Regions from separate parts of the Homo sapiens genome. Here region 2 is linked to region 1. Evidence: fine-mapped expression QTL. A gene starts in region 1. The other region holds a variant in brackets. All regions are shown on one strand. Distances are from middle to middle. Region 1 holds the start of DACT2 (dishevelled binding antagonist of beta catenin 2). Region 2 has its middle 33 kb from the start of DACT2.

Region 1 (4,390 bases):
CAGCCAAAACAATCTTGGAAAAGAAAAAATTGGAGGACTCACATTTCCTGACTTCAAAACTTATTACAAGGCTACAATGATTGAAACAGTGTGGTACTGGCATAAGAATAGACATATATTGCAACGCAACAGAACTGAGAAACCAGAAACTGATTTCTGGATCAACTGATTTTCAACAAGGGTCCCAAGACAATTCAACAGGGAAAGAATTGTTTTTTCAACAAATGGTACTAGGACAACTGGGTATGTAAAAGAAGGGGCCCCTACCTCACACCATATACAGAAATTAATGCAAAATAGAACAAAGGCTTAAATGTAAGTGCTAAGTCTACAGCAAAATCTTAGAAATCATAGCTGTAAACTTTGTCTTTGGATTAGACAATGCTCTGTTAGATCACCCAAAGCATAAGGAACAACAACAAAGTAGATACACTGGAATTCACCAAAATTACAAACATTTTTTGCTGCAAAGGACACTATCAAGAACATGAAAAAAACTCACAACATGGAAAAATTATTTGTCAATCATGTATTTCATAAGGGAAGTGCAAATCATGTCTGATAAGGGAATTGTATAATGAATACTCACATCTCAATAACGAAAAGACAACCTAAATTTTAAAATGGGCCAAGGATCTGAATAGACAGTTCTCCAAAGGAAGTATACAACAAGCACATGGAAAGATGCTCAACGTCCTTAGCCATCGGGGAAACACAAATCAAAACCACAGGGAGATACCACTTCACATCTGCTGGACTAAAGACAGCGGTTGGTGTGCACACTGAGGAAATGGAACCCTCATACCCCGCTGGCTGCTGTGATTCCACTTGGAAAGCAGCCTGGCAGCTCCTCACAAGATTAAGCACGGTAGTCACCTACGATCCAGCCATTCCTCTCTTAGGTATAATGAAAACATATTGCCACACAAAAACTCATACAGGAATGTCCTTGCAGCGTTATTCGTAATAGCTAAAAAATGGAACAACTCACATGTCATCAGCAGATGAATGGATAAACAAAACTTGGCACAGCCATGCAGTGGAGTATTATTCAGCCACACAAAGGAATACAGTTCTGACGCAATCTGCAGCACAGACGCACCTTGAAAACGCTCACCAAAAGGAGCCCCCACAGAGACCTCCTGGCGTGTGACCCCATTTCCATGAACTTCCAGAACCTGCGGGGTGGTGGTTCTATGTGTGGGGGTGCAGGAGAGGGAATGGGGGTAGCTACCGATGAGAACAGGGTTTCTTTTGGGGGTGGTGAACACAACTTCGTTAATATACTAAAAACGAACTGTACACCTTAAATTAGGTGAGTTTTATGGTATGTGAACTGCATCTTAAGCAATTATTTTAAAAATTTAAAAAGCAAGCTGAGCAGCCTGGCCAACATGGTGAAACCCCATCTGTACTAAAAATACAAAAATTAGCCAGGTATGGTGGTAGGCGCCTGTAGTCCCAGCTACTCGGGAGGCTGAGGCAGGAGAATCGCTTGAACCCGGGAGGCAGAGGTTGCAGTGAGAGGAGATCGCGCCACTGCACTCCAGCCTGGGCGACAGAGCGAGACACTGTCTCAAAAAAAAAAAAAAAAAAAAAAAAAAAAAAAAAAAAGCGAGGTGCGGTTTCCAAACTGCAGATACCCATTGGGAAACGTGGGTAACACGGTTTTGAAATCTCTACTGCGTCTGTAATGGTAACACGGTCCTTGCAATGTGATAATGTCCCAATAGTTTATCTTTATAAACATTTTAAAACATTAACAAGCCTTTCTCCGCCTTTGTTCCACTTGCGCCTCTTTGCCCCTCTCCCCCGGGCTCCTCCTCCCGGCTGGCCCTCCCCGCTGAAGTCACGGAGGCGCTCAGCTGGCCCCGGGGTCTGGGTGCGCCCGCCCTGCCCGCAGCCGGCGAGGGGCCCTGGGGGGTCGGCGGGGCGGGTCCGGGGGAGGCCGCGGTGACCTCGGGGCGCGTGCAGACCCCGCCCTCCGCGCCTGGCCACAGATTCCAGCCCACCTTGGCGACCTGCGGAGCCGGGGGCGGAGAGAGGAGGCGCAGGAGGACCCGCGACACAGCTCGGGATCCGCGCGCGCTGGGCCTCCGGCGCCGCTCGTGGGGTTCGGGAGGCCGGGACCCTGCCCGGGAGATGTGGACGCCGGGCGGACCCCCGGGGTCCGCGGGCTGGGACCGCCGTAGGTTGGGCGCGAGGTTGCGCGCGGCGTTCGCGGGGCTGCAGGAGCTGCAGGGGCTGCGAGCCACGCAGCAGGAGCGGGTACGGGGCGCCCTGGCCCTGCAGCCCCCGCCCGCGCCCGCCGCGCCCTGCGGCCCCCACGGCCTCCACGGCCCCGAGCAGCAGCTGGAGGCGGCGCTGGCCGCGCTGCAGGAGCAGCTGGTAAGGACCGGGCGCCGGGACTCGGGGCTGCGAGGTGTGCGGGCCACAGGCGCTGCTCCTTCGGCAGCGACTGTGTGTTAGTGGGACGGGGGTGTCTGATGGATGGAGGGGACGTCCTTTGGGATTTGAATGGAATGCAGTTCGGTCTCCAAGGAGGGGGACATGGAGGCCCCGCGCGCAGGTGCCTAGAGGTGAAGCGCACAGGTGAGGACCCTGAAAACTGCCCGGGGCTGCAGCCCGCGCTCCGCCGTGCGTGGATGTGCGCCTACCCACGCCAGCATCCCGAAGCTGGCAGATTTGGGAGAGACACCCTGTTCGTTACAGGGTTACAGCACTGATCTGACCTGCAGGCACTGACCGGCGTTCCCCTGGCGGAGGTCGGCTCGGGATCCTGGCATCACTCCCCCCCCGGGGACCAGGTCCCCCCTGCTGTCTTGGGTTAGGGGCAACAGTGTCCGCGTGGTAAAGCGCACCCCGACTTGTCCTCAGGAATGTGCTGACTTTTCTTAAGGTCGCGTCACTGTAATAAAGTATTGGGGGAAAGCATGTAACTGACAAAGGCCTCTTCAACTTTAAAATGTGACCTGACCTGTAAGGAGAGGCGTGTCCTCTGATCCAGAGGAGAGAGACTCTGATTTCCCTGCCACGGGCCCTCTTCAGCACTCCCTGGGCGCTCTGAACCCCTCCTTTCACACAATGAAAGGAACTCCACTCATTACCCCTCTGCTTATTATGTTATTGTATGATTTTGTTAAACTTACTGGAAACAACTCACAAGCGTTTTCGTAGTTGCTGTATTTTCTTAAAGACAAACTAAAAAGGCTGGAGAAAGATATGTTTACTTGTGTTACCTCTGTTACACTAAGTGAAATTTCTTTTACATTAGAAATTTAAGTCTGTCCTGTTAAAAGTTACTGCCTTTAAATGTTGCCCAGGTGAAGCTGCGGCATGACCGTCTGCCTCGCTCGCTCAGCCAGGTTGTTAACATAGCAAACCCTTCTGGATTAAAGAATCAGGAAGTCCAGTGTCTGGGACGCCTCCCAGGTTCCCCGTTATCTCCTGACCTTGTGGAAGACGGAGGTGGTAGACTGTGTGGGATTAACCTGGGCCCCCAACTCTGCCCCTGATGCCTCCTGAGAGGAAAGTAGCTGGTGTACAGACTTTGTTTACTCACCCAGTGACCAAATCCTGGCCGTCTGTTTAGGTCGTTTGTGTGTTTGCACCAGACACAATCGCAGCCTCTGTGTGACCTCAGCTCAGCACACGACAGCCACAGACGTGTTACACATATGTGATGGGAAGGGAGGTGCTGCTGAGATGTTGTGTGTTTGCACCAGACACAATCGCAGCTTCTGCGTGACCTCAGCTCAGCACACGACAGCCACAGACGTGTTACACACATGTGATGGGAAGGGAGGTGCTGCCGAGATGCTGTTGTGTGTTTGCACCAGACACAATCGCAGCTTCTGCGTGACCTCAGCTCAGCACACGACAGCCACAGACGTGTTACACACATGGGAAGGGAGGTGCTGCCGAGATGCTGTTGTGTGTTTGCACCAGACACAATCGCAGCTTCTGCGTGACCTCAGCTCAGCACACGACAGCCACAGACGTGTTACACACATGGGAAGGGAGGTGCTGCCGAGATGCTGTTGTGTGTTTGCACCAGACACAATCGCAGCTTCTGCGTGACCTCAGCTCAGCACACGACAGCCACAGACGTGTTACACACATGGGAAGGGAGGTGCTGCCGAGATGCTGTTGTGTGTTTGCACCACACACAATCGCAGCTTCTGCGTGACCTCAGCTCAGCACACGACAGCCACAGACGTGTTACACACATGGGAAGGGAGGTGCTGCCGAGATGCTGTTGTGTGTTTGCAGCTCAGCACACGACAGCCACAGACGTGTTACACACATGGGAAGGGAGGTGCTGCTGAGATGCTGTTGTGTGTTTGCACCAGACACAATCGCAGCTTCTGCGTGACCTCAGCTCAGCACA
Region 2 (4,390 bases), 32 kb after region 1:
CCACTCCCCCCGCAGCTGGCTCCGCAGTGGTTCGCTCCGCTTGCCCGGTGGGGATCTGGGTTCCAGATGGAATGCTGCGTGTTGTCCACGACTTGTTGTGGCTGGGGTTACTGCAGCAACCGCCAGAGCAGCCTTGGCGCTACGGAGGACCCTAGGGCTACCCCTCAGCCGTGCTTGGGGCTGATCCTGGAGTTGCGACGCAGGGTTGTGGCAGCACTGCCTGACGGTATGAGACCGGATTCTCATCCTTACGGTTTTCCATGGGAATTGGTGATACATGCAGCTGCTGTTGGATTTTTTGCTGTTCCCTTTTTTTTGTGGAGAAGTTTTAGATCTGTTAGGAGTCGGCTTTATGTGGGAAGAGAGAAAAAACTTGCTGTAGCGCTTTCTGGACTAATTGAAGAAAAATGTAAACTACTTGAAAAATTTAGCCTCGTTCAAAAAGCGTATGAAGGCTATGAAGTAGCGTCATCGTTAGAGGATGCCAGCTTTGAGAAGGCGGCAGCAGAAGCACAAAGTTTGCAGGCAACCTGTGAAAAGCTGAACAGGTCAAATTCTGAGCTTGAGCATGAAATACTCTGTCTAGAAAAAGAGTTAAAAGAAGAGAAATCTAAACATTCTGAAAGAGATGAACTGATAGCAGATATTTCCAAAAGGATACAGTTGCTGGAAGATGCGTCAAAATCCCTCAAATCACAAATAGCTAAAGGCAAAATGACTTTCAAGACATTTCACATGAACGGAGAACAACTGAAGATAACAATAGAAGATGCTTTGAATGAAAATTCTCAACTTCAGGAAAACCAGAAACAGCTTTTGCAAGAAGCTGAAGTATGGAAAGAAGAAGTGAGTGAACTTAATAAACAGAAAAGAACATTTGAAGACTCCAAAGTACACACAGAACAAGTTCTAAGTGATAAAGAAAATCGCATCGAGACTCTGACCGAACGTTTGCTAAAGATGAAAGATTGGGCTGCGAGGCTTGGAGAAGACACAACGGATGATGGTAACTTAGAAGTGAACAGTGAATCGGAAGATGGTGCTCACTCAGATGATCCCTCCAAAGGAGCTTTGAAGAAGCTGATTCCTGCCGCTAAGTTAAATGCTTCTTTGAAACCTTAGAAGGAGAAAGAAACCAAATTTATATTCAGTTATCTGAAGTTGATAAAACAAAGGAAGAGCTTACAGAGCATATTAAAAATCTTCAGACTGAACAAGCATCTTTGCAGTTAGAAAACACACATTTTGAAAGTGAGAATCAGAAGCTTCAACAGAAACTTAAAGTAATGACTGAATTATATAAAGAAAATGAAATGAAACTCTACAGGAAATTAATAGTAGAGGAAAATAGCCGGTTAGAGAAAGAAGAGAAACTTTCTAAAGTAGACTAAATGAGCAGCCATGCCACTAAAGAGCTGGAGACCTACAGACAGCGAGCCAAAGATCTTGACAAATTTGACAGAAATATTCATTTTTATCAAAGGAAGATTATTTCCCATGAGAAAAAGGCACATCATAACTGGTTGGCAGCTTGGGCTGCTGAAAGAAACCTCGACGATTTAAGGAAAGAAAATGCTCACAACAGACAAAAATTAGCTGAAACAGAGTATAAAATAAAACTTCTAAAAAAAGATCCGTATGCACTTGATGTTCCAAATACTGCATTTGGCAGAGAGCATTCCCCATATGGTCCCTCACCACTGGGTCGGCCTTCATCTGAAACGAGAGCTTTTCTCTATCCTCCAACTCTGTGGAAGGGTCCACTCAGACTCTCACCTTCGCCTCCAGGGGGAGAAGGAAGAGGCTCAAGAGGCCCAGGGAATCCTCCGGACCATCAGATTACCAAGGAAAGAGGAGAATCAAGCTGTGATAGGTTAACCGATCCTCACAGGGCTCCTTCTGACACTGGGTCCCTGTCACCTCCATGGGAACAGGACCATAGGATGATGTTTCCTCCACCAGGACCATCATATCCTGATTCAGCTCTTCCTCCACAAAGGCAAGACAGATTTTACTCTAACTCTGGTAGACTGTCTGGACCAGCAGAACTCAGAAGTTTTAATATGCCTTCTTTGGATAAAATGGATGGGTCAATGCCTTCAGAAATGGAATCCAGTAGAAATGACACCAAAGATGATCTTGGTAATTTAAATGTGCCTGATTCATCTCTCCCCGCTGAAAATGAAGCAGCTGGCCCTGGCTTTGTTCCTCCACCTCTTGCTCCAATCAGAGGTCCACTGTTTCCAGTGGATACAAGGGGCCCGTTCATGAGAAGAGCACCTCCTTTCCCCCCACCTCCTCCAGGAACCAGGTT[T/G]GGAGCTTCTCGAGATTATTTTCCACCAGGGGATTTCCCAGGTCCACCACATGCTCCGTTTGCAATGAGAAACGTCTATCCACCGAGGGGTTTTCCTCCTTACCCTCCCCCAAGACCTGGATTTTTCCCCCCGCCCCCACATTCTGAGGGTTGAAGTGAGTTCCCTTCAGGGCTGAGTCCGCCTTCAGATGAGCCTGCTACGGAACATCAGAACCACAGCAAGAAACCTGACAATATTTTTGCTCTCTTCAAAAGTCATTTTCACTGATCTCATTTTCAGTTTAAGTAACTGCTGTTACTCAAGTGATTACACTTTTGCTCATATTGAAACTTAATGGAATTATAATTCTTAGGATAGTATTTTGTAAATAAGGATGATTTAAATATGAATCTTATGAATAAATTGTTTCCATTTTATTTTATTCTAGATAGTATAACTATTTTAATTTGATTAACTAGTCCACTATTATATAAAAATAGTAGGAGTTTTATATATGTAATCTTGCAGGTGGGGAGGCTTTAAATTCTAAAGGCCTTGTCTTTATGCCAAGAACTGTATTTACTGTGGCTGTAGGCAAATGTGTAAGTAACTTTATGCTTAATTAAATAAATTTTAGTTGATTTAAGAAATAAAAAAAGAAAGAAAAGGGAGGTGAGAAGACAGAGGCCAAGCACTGTGTGGACTTAGGTGCTCGACGCACAGCGTGCTCGTGCTCAGGTCTGGGGTCACCCTCTCATTCTTGTGCCCCGGGTTGAAGCACACAGCAAGGACAGACCCAGACACCAGGCAATGAGTCAGTTCAAGGGAGGAGCTGACCGTTCCGAGCTCAGGCTGTGCTGAAGGTCCCCAGAGTCGGGCACTTTTGTCCTCTGCCTCATCAGTGTGAGCTCTTGGCTTCAGTTCCCACACAAGCAAAGACGCTGACAGCAGCGTTGTGTGGGATCCCGGAAAATGGGCCCAGCTTGCGGATCAGTAGAAGAAGACTCACCAAATTCTGGGTTGTTGTAGCTTGGAATATAGTGCAGACATTAGGATAATCGTTTTGGATATCTCAACAAGAAAGGGATTTTGTAAGATGGCAAATACTATAAAAATGTGTAACATAGCAGAGTACAAAGGCTGAATAGAGAATAGGAGATCGAGATTAGAGAAGATTGGGGAATAGCGGTTATAGGAGGCTCCAGCCATATAAAAATGCGAGCACAAGAGGCCGTCAGAACTTTATTCTTTTAATCACTGAGGGGAAGTGCTTTTTGCCCAATTTTCCTATCAAGTTTTCATACCATTTTTATAAAGGAACAGAGTTTTCCAGTCACGGAAGGAAACATTTCCCATGCCAGTCCCAGGCAGCGGCGTCTTGCGTGGTTAATCCTGAGCGGGGCAGCTTGGGTGGATCCCGGTTTTAGGCTGACGCGCTGCATGAATCCAGACGACCTCCTGGCTCCTGGCGGTCTGGCCTGCTCGGTGTGGATTGGGGGTGTCATTACCTGGCCCGCGGAGGGATGCGATAATGCCGAGGTGTCTGCACTAGCAGAGTTAGAGGACGTGCTCCATAAATGGTCACTGTCGTTATGAACACGATCAGGTGCTGGGGTTGCCGGCAGCGTTAGTTCCGTGGGCATACTCCTTATTTGAGGTGCATCATTTTTTTGTTAAGTTAAAATGTACTATCTTTGTATAAGTTTTCGAGGGCTGCCATAATTAAGAACCACAGCCTGGGTGACCTAAACAGCAGGAATTTGTCGTCTCCCAGGCCTGGAGGTCCAACGTCCGAGATCAAGATGCCGCAGGGCTGTGGGTTCTCTGAAGGAGCAGGGGAAGGGTGTGCTCCAGGCCTCTCTCCGTAGCCTGCAGACAGCCGTCTTCCCCTCTGTGTCTGTCTGTCTCTATGTCCAGATTGCTCCTTCTTATGAGAACACCAGTCATATTGGTTTAGGGCCACCCTAATAATCACTCTCTAACATAATCACCACTGTAGCAGCCCTATTTTCAAATAGAGTCACATTCCGAGATACTGGGGGTTAGGATGCCAACATATGCTTTTTGGGGGCAGACACAGTTCAACCCATAACAGT

Evidence for each region. PIP is the estimated chance that this variant, and not a neighbour inherited with it, causes the effect. A credible set is the group of variants that fine-mapping cannot tell apart.
Region 2: its variant is the best candidate, but not a certain one, in a credible set for the expression of DACT2 in hippocampus (GTEx, PIP 0.66).

What each region holds. Positions count from the first base shown.
Region 1 is chr6:168,317,386-168,321,775 of GRCh38, reverse strand. It overlaps DACT2 (dishevelled binding antagonist of beta catenin 2), which reads left to right and starts at 1,999. Exons shown (of 4, transcript NM_214462.5): 1 at 1,999-2,388. The coding sequence starts at 2,143.
Region 2 is chr6:168,285,060-168,289,449 of GRCh38, reverse strand. It overlaps the pseudogene CTAGE13P. Among named protein-coding and RNA genes, the nearest start is that of DACT2, 33 kb to the left of the region's middle. The variant T/G (reference allele first, on the strand shown) is at 2,315.